Linked DNA regions of Homo sapiens. The protein of the gene in region 4 interacts with the protein of the main gene of each other region in a biochemical or structural test. Each region holds a gene or a part of one and is shown on either strand. Other genes may lie near its edges.

Region 1 (3,500 bases), on a different chromosome or scaffold from region 4:
GGGCGGCAGAGGTTGCAGTGAGCTGAGATTGCGCCACTGCACTCCAGCCTGAGCGACAGAGCGAGACTCCGTCTCAATTAAAAAAAAAAATCAATCCTCTTTGGTTTAATGTAAGGTCAAAATTTAAGCATGGGCTTGTGTGATTCTATAGCTCATCTTCTCTTCTTTCACGATGTTACCTTTGATAATAACTAACATATGTAATGTGCTTTACAATTTAGAATGTTTTCATATATGGAATCTAATTTAACCTACATAATATATCATAGGCCTCATCTGAAATATGAGGAAACAGTAGTTCTGACTGTTACTCATCAAAGGTCATGCACCCAGTGATTATGACCAATATAGGTCTAAGGAAATTACTACAAGGATTACTGGCAGAAGGGACAGTCCAATGAGGTAGCAGAAAATGTTAGGCTTCCTTCCCTTTCAAGGCCTAAAAAATTAGCTAGAACCATAGAAAGGTTAAGTCACATGGTAATATATGCTGAGATGTCTGTGTTTTTTTTTTCTTTTCTTTATTTTTGAGATGGAGTCTCACTCTGTCATCCAGGCTGGAGTACAGTGGCATGATCTCAGCTCACTGCAACCTCCACCTCCCAGGCTCAAGTAATTTTCCTGCCTCAGCCTCCTAAGTAGCTGGGATTGCAGAGGCATGACCCAGCTTTTTTTTTTTTTTTTTTTTTTGTATTTTTTTAGTAGAGATGGGGTTTTGCTCTGTTGGTCAGGCTGGTCTTGAACTCCTGACCTCAAGTGATCCACCTGCCTCGGCCACCCAAAGTGCTGGGATTTCAGGTGTGAGCCACTGCGCCCAGCCAGATGTCTGTATTTCTGTATTTAAGGTGAATAAGATGATTACAGAAATAAGAATAAAATTTCAAACCATAATATTTTATAAGTACCAGGGAATGCACAATGGCAGCAGCCTTGTCCGGTTTAAGAAATCAGCTTTAATCCACTTGGTTCAACATCTGACCATCTGAGATCAAGCTATTCTCAGTCTGTACAGGTAAACGTGACTTTTCACTATGACCCATATCCTCGAAAATACATAAAACTATATCATAACAAGGTGAATCACATGTATCCATAACAAAGACTGGGTACCAAATCATACCAAAATCAAATCCCAAAATGTATCAAACAGCAGAGCTACAAATGTATCACAATTTAAAACAATAAAAGCCCATGCCAAGTCCTGCAAAATGGACATAAGTATGTTTTTATCATATAAAGGATAACCTATTATTAACCACATACAGAGCAGATAAAATATATAATCCATAAATTTGGCCTCAAATTCCTGTTTTTGTTTTTTGAGATAGGGTCTTGCTCTGTCCCCCAAGCTGGAATGGGGTGCCCTGATCTTGACTCACTGCAACCTCCACCTCCTGGGCTCAAGTGATCCTCCCACCTCAGCCTCCAGAGTAGCTGGGATTACAGGTGCACGCACAACCATGCCCAGTTAATTTTTCTATTTTTAGTAGAGATAGCATTTTACCATGTTGCCCAGGCTGGTCTTGAACTCCTGGACTCAAGGGATCTCCCTGACTTGGCCTCCCAAAGTGCTGGGATTAAAGGCATGAGCCACCATGCCTGGCCTGGGATTGTTATGTGGAATTTTTTTCCTTGACAAAATCTCAGATAATCAGGCTTAAAAACTATTATAATGGGTTTTGAATCGTTGGAATCAACTAGTCCTTAAGCCCAGCCACCCTGGGTTTTTTGTTTGTTTGTTTGCTTGTTTGTTTGTTTTGAGACAGGGCCTCACTCTTGTCACTCAGGCTAGAATGCAGTGGTGCCCTCATGGCTCACTGCCACCTTGACCTCCCGGGCTCAAGCGATCTTCACAGGCGCGTGCCATCACATCCAGCTAATTTTTTTATTATTGGTAGAGACGGGGTCTCACGATGTTGCCCAGGCTGGTCTCAAACAATCCTCCCACCTCAGCCTCCCAAAGTGCTGGGCTTACAGGTATGAGTCACCATGCCTGACCCTGTTACTTTACAGATGAAGAAAGTGCAGTATAAAATAATACACTGGATAAATAAAAAATGTATTTTGAAAGACTTCAGGCTGGGCGCAGTGGCTCATGCCTGTAATCCCAGGACTTTGGGAGGCCAAGGCAGGTGGATGACCTGAGGTCAGGAGTTCGAGACCAGCCTGGCCAACATGGTAAAACACTATCTCTACTAAAAATAGAAAAATTAACTGGGCATGGTTGTGCGTGCGCCTGTAATCCCAGCTACTTGGGAGGCTGAGGCAGGAGAATCACTTAAACCCAGGAGGCAGAGGTTGCAGTGAGCTGAGATTGCACCAATGCGCTCCAGCCTGGGCAACATGAGCAAAACTCCGTCTCAAAAAAAAAAAAAAAAAAAGGCCAGGTACGGGGGCTCACACCTGTAATCCCAATACTTTGGGAGGCCAAGGCGGGCGGATCACAAGGTCAGGAGTTCAAGACTAGCCTGGCCAACATGGGGAAACCATGCCTCCACTAAAAATACAAAAATTAGCCGGGCGTGGTAGCACATGTCTATAATCCTAGCTACTCAGGAGGCTCAGGCAGGAGAATCACTTGAACCCAGGAGGCGGAGATGCAGTGAGCTGAGATTGTGCCACTGCACTCCAGCCTGGGGGACAGAGTGAGACTCTGTCTAAAAAACCAAACCAAACCAAAAAAAAAAAAAAGACTGCTGGGCGCAGTGGCTCACACTTGTAATCCCAGCACTTTGGGAGGCTGAGGCGGGCTAATCACGAGGTCAGGAGATGGAGACCATGGTGAAACCCCGTCTCTACTAAAAATACAAAAACATTAGCCAGGCGTGGTGGCGGGCACCTGTAGTCCCAGCTACTTAGAGAGGCTGAGGTAGGAGAATGGCATGAACCCAGGAGGCGGAGGTTGCAGTGAGCTGAGATCGCACCACTGCACTCCAGCCTGGGCGACAGAGCGAGACTCCGTCTCAAAAAAAAAAACAGAAATGTTAACTATAGAATGTTGAAGGGGGGGGGGGGATTAAAACAACCTGTAGACAATATGATCGTCATTATTCTATTTCATAAATTTTCTATAATAAACACATATCTCTGGCCAGGCACGGTGGTTCATGCCTGGAATCCCAGCACATTGGGAGGCCGAGGCGGGCAGATCACATGAGGTCAGGAGCAAGACTCCGTCTCAGAAAAATAAATAAATACATAAAATAAAATAAGCCAGGTGTGGTAGCACACCTGTAGTCCCAGCTACTTGGGAGGCTGAGGCAGAAGAATCGCTTGAACCTGGGAGGCGGAGGTTCAGTGAGCCAAGATCTCACCACTGCACTCCAGCCTGGGTGACAGAGCTAGACTCTGTCTGAAAAATATATATATTATATATGTAATATATTTTACATATTATATTGTGTTATATATTATATATATTTTACATATATTGTATTATATATTATATATAATATATTATACATGTAATATATTATATACTATATTATATATATCATACA
Region 2 (4,108 bases), on a different chromosome or scaffold from region 4:
TGGCCATGCTCCATAGTGTCAGTCAGGGATCCATGTTATGGAAGCTCCATGAGTTGCCTTTTTTTTTCTTTTTTTTTGGGTGTGTGTGTGTATGTGTTGTGTGGTGTTTGTTTGTTTGTTTTTTGTAGAGACAGGGTCTTACTATGTCACCCAGGCTGCAGTGCTATGGTGCAATGACGCAATCTTGGCTCAATGCAACCTCCACCTCCTGGGCTCAAGCCATCCTCCCATCTCAGTTTCCTGAGTAGCTGGGACTACAGGTGCACATCACCACACCCAGCTATTTTTTTTTTTTTAATTTTTCTTAGAGATGGGATTTCACCATGTTGCCCAGGCTGGTGTTGAAGTCCTGGACTCAAGTGATCCACCCACCTGGGCCTCCCAGAGTGCTGGGATTACAGGCATGAGACACCACAGGCCTCCATCAGTTTTTGATGGCATTATCTGGCACATGCAGTTAAACAAGAATACAATAGACAACAGGGTACAGAAGTATGTGCATGACGTATAACATGTTTCAGTGCTGCTTTTTAATTGATTGTGTAAAAATGACCAAACTTTTCTTAGAGAAGCAGGGAAAAGTGGAAAAATTATGAAGGCATGAGAGTAACTCAATGAATGATTATAATTAAACAGCATCATCTGTTAACTTCCATGTTCTCACCTGCCTCAGTGGCTGGGTAACATGACACTGACACAGTTTTACCTCTATTACTCTCTGGAATCCATCCTCATCTGGTCTGTCTGGATTAGGAGCAGGAAGTGATAATTAATTGATGGACTCTTAAGATTTAATGACATTTTGAGAACATTTTTTTCAATGGGCTCACACTAAAGATCCTTTTATTTATAAAAATAATTTTTTTACCATTCACAATGTCAGCTGCTAATACTCATCTTGTCAGCCCAAATTTGTAGAGCTTTATAACTGAGTATCTTCCTCGTCAGACTGCATTTCAAGAAGCTAGGTCCCAAGTCTCTGGATCTTTATTTTCCTGGCTTAGGTCTTAAATATAAGATAAATTCGACTAATAATTATAGGACTGCATTGGAATTCTAAGTATTCAGGCAAGCTGTATAACTGTAATTCACATTCTTTTTATTCAAATATTCTTGCTTGAGTAAACCACAGTAAGAATAAGGAAGTAGTGACTGAGTGCCTTGCCAGTACAGCAGATGCTAGAACATAATGTAGCATTACTTTCCCCAGGGTTTATTGTTATGTAAGTTCTTGTTCAGCTTCCTTTGTTTTCTTTCACTTCTGAGAATTTAACTTTCGTTTCTCACTCAGCTCCTGTGGGGAAACTCATTTGTGGAGACCAGCCCTCTGGCTTGGTGAGTGAATCTGGTTTACACCGGCTCCTGCCCTGCCTTCACTCTTCTCCCCTGATTCAAGACTCCTCTGCTTTGGACTGAAGGTGAGTGGAGCAATCTGTGGGAGCATAGAATGGGAGGCTTTGAGAAGAATAGATTGATTGTGTCTGGGTGAGTTTAATTTGTAGTTCTGAAGCTGCTCTGCATAAACAAAAAGAGGCAGCTTGTGAACTGTCTGCTGAGATGGCAGAGGAAGAAAGCACTGAGTCTGGGAGAGGGGTAACCTTTAAAGAAGAGAGGTTTGCAAAAGCAAAAAGCCTTGCTTGTTTCCTAGAGGGACCATTCATTTCTTCAATCTAGGTACCTCCATCACCTTCCTTGTTGGAAATAAAGCTCAGAATCTTAAGGGAGACGAGCACTCAAACAAAGGATTTCTCAGCAAAGCAATTTTATTTCTGTGCAGAGGGGTGCTTCTTCTTTGCCAGTCGCCATGAGAGCACACTAGAACAAAGGAGGAAGAAAGTTTTTATTCCTGACGCAAATCCTACCCCTTTGCCCTTTCCCCATTGGCTGGAGTCGGCCACACAATCTAAACTAGACTCAGTTGGCTAAACATTTTAACTTTCTTTAGATAAGGTGGGCACGTGAGGGAGAGAGGGGAGATGGGGAAGGGGTGTGTGTGATGAGCTAGATAACTAATCTTCTTCCAAAATAAGGAAAGGAATGTGAGTTGGTACTGATAACGCCTGGTACTGTGACATGTCTAGGCATGTAGCAAAAGCAGAAAGGAAAGAGAAGAGAAGAAAAGTGAAGTGGGGAGGGGCACTGTGAATTAAAGAATAAAGGATTGATCAGGCTATTTGAAGAGAAACCTTATCATACCCCACATTCCTATTCTGTCATTTTGATTTTTCCATTTTGCCAACGTGGATCAGAATTTTCTTTTATTCAGAGGCAGCAAATTCCTTCCTCCTTTCTCCCGAAGAAGCCTGTGCAATGAAGCTTTGTTTTCACTTTTCATAAAGCAACCTCATGATGAGGTTCAGCAGGGATGAGAGCCCTTATCTGGATCTGGGTATGAGGCGAAGGAGTCTTAGGTACTCAGTCTTCAGAAGTAAGGCCCTTTTGAAGGTTATCCTTTTACTTGCCTTCTGGTAACTTTTTGGATGCTGTCCATAGCTTTCCTGATAAATTAGCAGCCCTCTGGTTAGTCCGAGGAGAGAGGCCGCAGGACGGGCAGACTGCTGCTCATCTCTGCAGCTCCACTTTGGTCTCTTGTCTCTGAAGGTCCAGTCACAGGGAACTTGTTCTTCTGAGTACCCACAGCTTACTCTTCCTTTGTAGCAGGACCAGCCACAGAAAAAACTCCTCAGACACCGAGGTAAAGAAGGAAGGGGTTTATTCGGCCAGGGGCATAGGCAAGACTCCTGTCTCAAGAGCCGAGCTCCTCGAGTGAGCAATTCCTGTCCCTTTTAAGGGCTCACAACTCTAAGGGGGTCCGCGTGAGAGGGTCGTGATCGATTGAGCAAGCAGGGGGTACGTGACTGGGGGCTGCATACACCGGTAATTAGATCGGAACAAAACAGAGTAGGGATTTTCACAGTGCTTTTCTATACAATGTCTGGAATCTATAGATAACAAACCAATTAGGTCAGGGGTCCATCTTTAACTACCAGGTCCAGGGTGTGGCCCCGGGCTGTCTGCTTGTGGATTTCATTTCTGCCTTTTAGTTTTTACTTTTTCTTTCTTTGGAGGCAGAAATTGGGCATAAGACAATATGAGAGGTGGTCTCCTCCCTCAACTTCTGTAGCACCCAATGAACCTCTGGTATCCACTCCTGTTTTAGAAGTTGCTATTATTCTAGGTACACCTTTTCATCATGAGTTACCTCAACTCCCTACTCAATTTTCCCTTGCACAGAGCTAAGGCAAGGAGTTGGTAATTTCTCCTGAGTCTTATCTCGATCTTATCGCTGAGCATTTTGTACCTTGATGCCTATGTCACCCATATTCTGATGTGTCCTTTTCTTTGTTTCACTTTTCAGAGGTCCAGGTAACTGTCTCCTTATGTGTCTGTACCGCACATCTTGTCAAGGTCCATATCTAGTATTTATTCATTGTCAAGTCTAGTACAGGACCCAATAAATAAAACTGTACTTTTAATTTTTGAAAAATATTTTTGACTAAATTCACAAAACAAAAGCATACAGGTATAGTAAAAAAACAAAAACAAAAACAAAAAAACTATCTATTCGATATATAATCAACATTAAATACCGGTAAGAGATTATGCTCTGGACTAGGGAAAAGGAAGTAAACACGCAGTCAAAAAAAGGAAGTAAACCAGCAGTTTTAATGTAGCAAAAAGGTAGCAGTTACTAGAGGATAAATGTAAAACCAATAAAACAAAAGCAACAAACTAAAAGGGCTGCAATAGGATGTGGTATCTGTAGTGCTCTTGTCAAGGGCTTTGCAACTTTAAATAGATTTCACATTAGGTCTCACTGTGAGACAATGATTTTGAGCAGTCTTCAATAAAATGATGGATTTAAGAACTGATGAACTAACTGTGAGAGAAAGAGATGACACTGGGGTAGCTTTATGAAATCTGTCCTCTGTTACAAAATGACTTATCTGAAACATATTGACCAGAGAGTTAGAACTCTTGGAAAAAGGGTCATTACTTGGGGAAAACTAAACCCTGGACATTTTAGTGGGTCATTGAAAAAGGAACTCTGAGTTTAGACAAATAAGAAGTGGTAACGGTGTTTCTGAGTTCTCCAGGTTTCTGCATG
Region 3 (4,136 bases), on a different chromosome or scaffold from region 4:
AAGAAAAGGAAAATGGATGTGAGGCAGTCAAAATCAGCAGAGGTCCACCACACCACCAAAATGTGGTGATTAAATATGGAGAGACAGAGACTAACAGAGGTATGTGAATATTGAAGTATGTCTGGACAATAGCCCAATGATGAGACCAATAAAATGGTTACCAAAATCTGGTTTTGAGTAGTAGTGTTAAATCAGACCATTTAGTAACCATTTTTTGTTGCAAAGTTTCTAGCACTGCCCAAACCCTGAGTGGTATATGAATAACTCGTCCATTATGTATCTCTTTCCAGTCAGCATAATTTATCCCCCACCTATATTCTTTTCTGACCACTCCTACTTCCTTCTCTTTACCAAAATCTAAACTCTAAGGCTGTTTCTTCAGCAACTTCTTTGTTTAGATTGGAAGATAAATTAAACAGCATGCGATGTTTTACTGACTTTCAGTATTTAACAGAGGTGATTTAATTTTTTTTTAAATCCAAAGTCAAACTTCTTTATAAGATGAAGGAGAAAAATGTCTTATAAAATGCATATGTGAAGATGCCTTCTGAGTGCTTTCTCATGCAGACTTGTTCTAGTCTTTAATGAATCTTCCTTGTAGACACTGTGGAGATGAAAGATGGTTCTCCACTTCTACTCAAAGTACAAATCAGGCCGGCATTTTGAAAAAGAGACAGGTTTATTCATAGCTGCAGCGTTAGCTGGCTTTGTTCCCTGTACAATTTCACTTTTGGTTATTAAAATATTCACTGTAGGAAATAAATTTGTAACCCATTTCTCATATTACCTACACACAGAAAAACAAAATTTGATATCCTGGGGTTTATTTGCTGAGGGCGCTTCCCATAAAAGCGAGAGAGTGTGCGTTGGGAAATGTGTCTGGTTAACTCTTTTATGGATAAACTTTAGTCACAATCCTCCCCCGCCCCCCTCTCACCCCCAGCACCCTCCCAACCTCCCGACTTCCCGCCTCTCAAGGGCTGGTGACCTAATAGCATTTTTCTTCGTGCATATTTTGGCGTCGCCCCATGGCCTGGCTGCCTTCGCCTGTCTGAGTTTTTTGAAATTCCTGCATGTTCGCCCCAGATTAAGCCAGTGTGTCTCAGGATGTGTGTTCCGTTTTGTTCTTTCCCCTTAACGCTCCCTGTGCAACGTGTCTGGGGGGAGGAGGGCAGGGACGGGAGAGAGGGAGGGGCAGAGGCGAGGAGCTGTCCGCCTTGCACGTTTCCAATCGCATTACGTGAACAAATAGCTGAGGGGCGGCCGGGCCAGAACGGCTTGTGTAACTTTGCAAACGTGCCAGAAAGTTTAAAATCTCTCCTCCTTCCTTCACTCCAGACACTGCCCGCTCTCCGGGACTGCCGCGCCGCTCCCCGTTGCCTTCCAGGACTGAGAAAGGGGAAAGGGAAGGGTGCCACGTCCGAGCAGCCGCCTTGACTGGGGAAGGGTCTGAATCCCACCCTTGGCATTGCTTGGTGGAGACTGAGATACCCGTGCTCCGCTCGCCTCCTTGGTTGAAGATTTCTCCTTCCCTCACGTGATTTGAGCCCCGTTTTTATTTTCTGTGAGCCACGTCCTCCTCGAGCGGGGTCAATCTGGCAAAAGGAGTGATGCGCTTCGCCTGGACCGTGCTCCTGCTCGGGCCTTTGCAGCTCTGCGCGCTAGTGCACTGCGCCCCTCCCGCCGCCGGCCAACAGCAGCCCCCGCGCGAGCCGCCGGCGGCTCCGGGCGCCTGGCGCCAGCAGATCCAATGGGAGAACAACGGGCAGGTGTTCAGCTTGCTGAGCCTGGGCTCACAGTACCAGCCTCAGCGCCGCCGGGACCCGGGCGCCGCCGTCCCTGGTGCAGCCAACGCCTCCGCCCAGCAGCCCCGCACTCCGATCCTGCTGATCCGCGACAACCGCACCGCCGCGGCGCGAACGCGGACGGCCGGCTCATCTGGAGTCACCGCTGGCCGCCCCAGGCCCACCGCCCGTCACTGGTTCCAAGCTGGCTACTCGACATCTAGAGCCCGCGAAGCTGGCGCCTCGCGCGCGGAGAACCAGACAGCGCCGGGAGAAGTTCCTGCGCTCAGTAACCTGCGGCCGCCCAGCCGCGTGGACGGCATGGTGGGCGACGACCCTTACAACCCCTACAAGTACTCTGACGACAACCCTTATTACAACTACTACGATACTTATGAAAGGCCCAGACCTGGGGGCAGGTACCGGCCCGGATACGGCACTGGCTACTTCCAGTACGGTAAGTACCCCCAAGTCCGCTGGAAGCACCCGTGCACCTGGTCCCCAGCTATGTGGCTTCTCGACGTGGCTGCCTGGGCGCGGCGGGCCCCGGTCCTCGCAGATCCGATCCCTCCCCCACGCGCCTGCAGTGGCAGCCCTGGAATCCAGTGCAAACCGCGCGTCTGGCCCCTCCTGCTTCCTTTTCACATTGCTTTGCAGTCCCGGGCGTCCCCAGTTCTCTTGCTGTCCTCCGCTCCACTCTGCAGTCCCGGTGGGCGAAGGGTGAGGAGTAAGGGACCTAGAGGGGTAGGGAGTTGGAGCGGGGGGCGCCGGGTTGTTTCACTGCTGCGCCCGTCGCCTGCTGACGTTTAGGTCTCCCAGACCTGGTGGCCGACCCCTACTACATCCAGGCGTCCACGTACGTGCAGAAGATGTCCATGTACAACCTGAGATGCGCGGCGGAGGAAAACTGTCTGGCCAGGTACGGGCTGATATGTCTGAGGCCCCGCTCCCCGGTCTACCTTCAGGGGGCGCTCTGGTGCCTGGTTCTGACTGCTACTGCTTCGCGCAGACAAGTGTTAGGAAGTGGGACAAGAGCTGGGAAGTGGGACGTGACCTCCTGGGCATGCTGACCTGGACGGAGAGTTAATATTTTTGAAGATTTCTGTGGGTTCTGTCTCAAAGTGCAGCAGGAATCACAGAGGTGGAGGAAACCCTTATCCTGGAGACTGAAAGTCTCATGCTCTTTTTCCAAGATACTTAAACTTGGGAGTCAATTGTTCCAATCACTTTTCATAAAACAACTATACAGTAATTCAAAAAATTTATTGTAATGGAAGGGTGTGTTAATACCCCCTTAAAAGATTCGGGGCAAATTTGCCATCGTAGCCTCATTGGTAAAGACTAAGTTTTCCTCTTTTGTTTGAGACCACGATGAACTTGGTTGTTTTGGTATTACTTCAGCCAGAATAAGACCGTGAGCAAGAGCTTTGTTTTTCCACTATTCTAAAATAAAATAGTAACTCTGGGATTGGGGTTCTCTGGGTTTACTGCTGGGAAACAGCAGAGGGAGCAAAAGATGTTTTAATAAAAATTTAAAGTGTAAAATAAGGTCATCAATACCACCTGAACATATAGACACACTAAATATATTAGTAGGAACACAGTGATGTTTATTTGTACATTTCTTCCACTTTGACCCTTTATAATTGTCAGGCTAAAGGAAGTGAAGAAATCCAAGCTCATTTTCATTCCTGAGTCTTGCATCACTCACACCATTGAACTCCCTATGATGTTTTTACAGTACTGCCATTGTTTTGGGATAGTGAAGTTACAAAATTATTAATTTAAATCTGGGTATGCTCTTTTAGAGTTATTTCCTCAGTTTGCAGCTCATTAACTTTTTTAAAAGTTTTGTTAAGTTTGAAGTTTGTAATAAACATCTATGAATTATTTTTTTTATTGGGGGATTATTTCCACTTCAGTTTCACTCATTCATATGATCAAACTTGAATTGATTCTAAAGTTTACTTCTGACATTTAGATTTTTAATGCTTATTATGTTTTTACTGTTAAGATCTGTGGATTTCCATAGGTGTTATTCATTCACTTATTCACCAAATATTCATTGAGCTCTGACTACTCCAAGACGGTTCTAGGAGCTTTGGATTCAGCAATGAACAAAAAGAAACAAAATGCCTTAGACTCTTGGAACTGATAGTCTAGTTGGGAAAGGAGGATTGTCACTACTATATAATGGATGTTTTATTTGTAGTTTTGTCTTTAGTTAATATTCCATGAATATAATAATTTTTCTTTTTTCAAAATCACAGTACAGCATACAGGGCAGATGTCAGAGATTATGATCACAGGGTGCTGCTCAGATTTCCCCAAAGAGTGAAAAACCAAGGGACA
Region 4 (3,500 bases):
TATCACTGTTTCTAAAGTAGTTTCTGGATCACAATTCATTAAATGAGTCTAGAATCCAGACCTGTCAGTCAAAATCTACAACAAATACCCTTTAAAGTATGTATACTCCTCATCCCTATCTTCCTTGGATAAAAGAACAATGCCTTACAAGAGTTGTCTGATGTTACTCCAGTCCACACACATAGTAGGTACTTTGGTGCTACAGTGCTCATGAAATTTGTAGCCACAAGTCTGACATCGAAATCCATTGAGCAGGAATTTCTGACAGATGTCACAGAAGGCAAGCTTCAGGAACGTCTTCCGAGCCTACAACAAGAACACAGGTGTAAATTATGCTGAATAAATAAAAGATGACAAAAGACAACTTCATTTCTTGGCCTCCAAAAAAGTTTTTACAAAATGAATCATACTTCCAGCATGTACAGAATTCATAATCACAAATTAGAGTATATCTCTGACTAATGAAATCTAAATTGCCTTACTGTAAACAACAGCATAAAGAACTTTAAACAATCCAACTATATATATATATACATACGCATATTACCTGAGAAATCTCTGTTATGCCTGGCAAAGCCCTCAACATGCCAGAAAGAGAAGAGATCTGCAACTTACAAAGTTGTGTGTTGTGAGGGGAACATGATCCAGGAAATCTACTTGAAGTTCTTCTCCAATCAAAGACGCAGCATCAGTATTCCAATCTAAGCGTGCTTTTTTACTAGAAAGGATTTAAAAAAAACATGAAATGTTTAAACAAGATCAAAGTTCAATAGAAATAACAACAGCTACCATTTATCACATGCCATATAAACACAACTTTATTTAATCCATACAACAATAATTTATTTAATTCATACAACAAACCTATGAAGTAGGTATTATTTCTATCTGAAAAATAAGAAAACTGGGACTCTAAGAAGGTAATTTGCTCAAGGCCACACAGCAAGTTTAAGGGCCTATGTTGGAATCTAGGTCTGTTGAACTCCAAAGCCCATGTTCTCAGAATAAAGTTTTCTCTTTATTTACTTAAAAAAATGTTTTTTGGTAGAGAGAGAGTCTTGCTGTGTTGCCCAGGCTGGTCTTGAATCCCTGGCCTCAAGCGGTCCTCCTGCCTCAGCCTCCCAAAGTGCTGGGATTACAGGTGTGAACCACCATGTCTGGCCAGAATAAAGTTTTCTTTAAACAATGATATATAAAATCTCACAATAAAGTCAATATACGTTAAATTGGAATTTGTAACACTAAAATCTTACAAAAATCCCCAAATCCTGTAAAATGGATTATAAATATTGCTGCAGTACAAAATTTAGTCTTCAGTAGCCTATTTCAATCTAGATAAATAGAAAGGAACCACAAATGAAAAATGTACTTTTCTATTAATTAATAACAGACTCAAATCTGTAGTTGTAGGGTCTATAAGTCAATGAGAAACTTAACTGTCTTAAAATCTACTCTGAAACCACACTTTCTGTGCCTACAGTATAAATAAGACAAAAAATAGATACATAAGTAAAAAGTAATGCCCAATTCCTTTCTTATGTTTTATCCAGTTAATCTGGCCCATTTTCCAAAGGAAGAATATTCTCAGGTAAAGAGAAAATAACATGTATAGCACCATTCAAGCCTCTCCATTATCTACCAGAAGCCTAGTCAAGCCATTTTTCTCACTATCCAACAGTAAACAATACATTCCTTAATATAATTACCTATACAGCACCTGGAAAACTTCCTATAACTCCAAAGGACTATTTTGCCCTTATGAAGAGAAGGAGGACAAGCCTTATTTTCTCATCAATCTGCAGACTGATCCTAGTGACAATCTGCTGTCTGTCCTAGAGACTCCAGAGTAGCTCCAAACCAGTGCAGCCTTGGATGAGAGTAGACCAAGCCCTCCCTGTCTCAGAATCTCTCTAGTCCTTAAGGAACACTATGGATTGGCTTAGGGACCCAACCTGGGCTACCTTCAGCAAAAGTTAACGTCTGCTTCAAAGATTTGCACTTCAACAAACGCCTCCTAAATTGAGAATTACACTCACCCCTTCGAGTAGATTCATTCCCTGGGCTATTCTCCCAAACTGCAGAACTCTTTGAAACATGAAAAAATGTAAGCTAACGATGAATAACATAAGTGACGCTTTCCAAGAAGAGGGTAAAAAAGAACCCTTTAAAGGTTTCCCTATATTTTCGGGGTGGAGGGAATAATGGATAATGGATAATTATGGACAGCTCTGCTGCTTTGAGGTATTACTCCTAGCCTTTGAGGGGATGCCTCTATCTTGCCACCACCATTAGGAATAGGATAAACCATGAATCTTCCCTGAAGCAGAAATGCTTCTGCATCTTTAAACAATCTATCAAACAGCAGGGATTAGTACACATTTAACTGAATAAAAAAAAAAATTAGTGAATGAGAAAAGTCAATCTCCCGAGGATAGCATTCTTTATATAAAATAATGCACTTTCTGAGTGCCCAGTCTATATAATGCATTAGAGTAAACACAAAGAAAAATCTTTGTCTCAAAAAAACACAGCATCTAACATCACTGTTTCCATCCATGGAAACATTATCAATACCTAACATGTGTTTGTTTTTGTTTTTTTGTTTTTTGGCTTTTTTTAATAGACAGGATCTTGCTCCAGCCCAGGCTGGAGTCCAGTAGCACAATCATGACTCACTGCAGCCTCAAGCCCCTGGGGTCATGCAATATTCTCACGTCAGCCTTTCGAACAGCTAGGACTACAGGGCCGCACCACCATGCCTGGCTAATTTTTAAAAATCTTTTGTAGAGATGGGCCTTCGCTATGTGCCCAGGCTGGTCTTGAACTCTTGGCCTCAAGCAACCCTCTTGCCTCAGTTTCCCAGTGTTAAAATTACGGGTATTACCATCCTGGCTAACACGGTGAAACCCCGTCTCTACTAAAAATACAAAAAATTAGCCGGGCGCGGTGGTGGGCGCCTGTAGTCCCAGCTACTCCGGAGGCTGAGGCAGGAAAATGGCGTGAACCCGGGAGGCGGAGCTTGCGGTGAGCCGAGATCGCGCCACTGCACTCCAGCCTGGGCGACAGAGCAAGACTCCACCTCAAAAAGAAAAAAAAATTACAGGTATTGGTCATCAGGCCCAGCTTAACGTGTATTTAACTTTTCAAGAGAATGTCCAAGCAATAATTTCAATTTCTTAATACCTATTTTTCTGAATTATCTCTTTATAAAGAAAGGTATAGAAATATACAATATTCTATAGGAAGCTAGTACAATTTAATACAAACATAGCTATTTGAAGCTAGAAGATCCTTACTAGTCTGAAGAAGTCAATTGACTTTTGAGCTCTTACCCTTTGTGTTCGTGGAGAAGTCTGAACACTGCACAGCACTCTGGTTGCAGGCCCCTCACCTTGAGTGCTTTCATAAGGCAGTCATGCAAGCTCATTCCATTTCGCACATTGACCTACAAACAAAGGACCACCTTTAGGACCAACACAGGCTGCAGCACCCCTTGGAAA

The links.
Region 1: the proteins of RAF1 (region 4) and XIAP form a complex in vitro, tested with the Homo sapiens proteins (one study listed by BioGRID).
Region 2: of the proteins of RAF1 (region 4) and TRIM22, one has a biochemical effect on the other in vitro, tested with the Homo sapiens proteins (one study listed by BioGRID).
Region 3: the proteins of RAF1 (region 4) and LOX form a complex in vitro, tested with the Homo sapiens proteins (one study listed by BioGRID).

What each region holds. Positions count from the first base shown.
Region 1 is NC_000023.11:123,866,553-123,870,052, reverse strand, and holds part of XIAP (E3 ubiquitin-protein ligase XIAP), read right to left. Parts: intron 1-3,500.
Region 2 is NC_000011.10:5,688,482-5,692,589, forward strand, and holds the start of TRIM22 (E3 ubiquitin-protein ligase TRIM22), read left to right. Parts: upstream 1-1,308; 5' UTR 1,309-1,418; intron 1,419-1,745; exon of another isoform or gene 1,746-1,815; intron 1,816-2,196; exon of another isoform or gene 2,197-4,108. UniProt on the Homo sapiens protein: Interferon-induced E3 ubiquitin ligase that plays important roles in innate and adaptive immunity.
Region 3 is NC_000005.10:122,075,460-122,079,595, reverse strand, and holds the start of LOX (protein-lysine 6-oxidase isoform 1 preproprotein), read left to right. Parts: upstream 1-1,336; 5' UTR 1,337-1,610; coding exon 1,611-2,241; exon of another isoform or gene 2,242-2,594; coding exon 2,595-2,703; exon of another isoform or gene 2,704-4,054; coding exon 4,055-4,136. UniProt on the Homo sapiens protein: Responsible for the post-translational oxidative deamination of peptidyl lysine residues in precursors to fibrous collagen and elastin. Regulator of Ras expression. May play a role in tumor suppression. Plays a role in the aortic wall architecture.
Region 4 is NC_000003.12:12,608,618-12,612,117, forward strand, and holds part of RAF1 (RAF proto-oncogene serine/threonine-protein kinase), read right to left. Parts: intron 3,446-3,500; coding exon 3,333-3,445; intron 719-3,332; coding exon 616-718; intron 307-615; coding exon 149-306; intron 1-148. UniProt on the Homo sapiens protein: Serine/threonine-protein kinase that acts as a regulatory link between the membrane-associated Ras GTPases and the MAPK/ERK cascade, and this critical regulatory link functions as a switch determining cell fate decisions including proliferation, differentiation, apoptosis, survival and oncogenic transformation.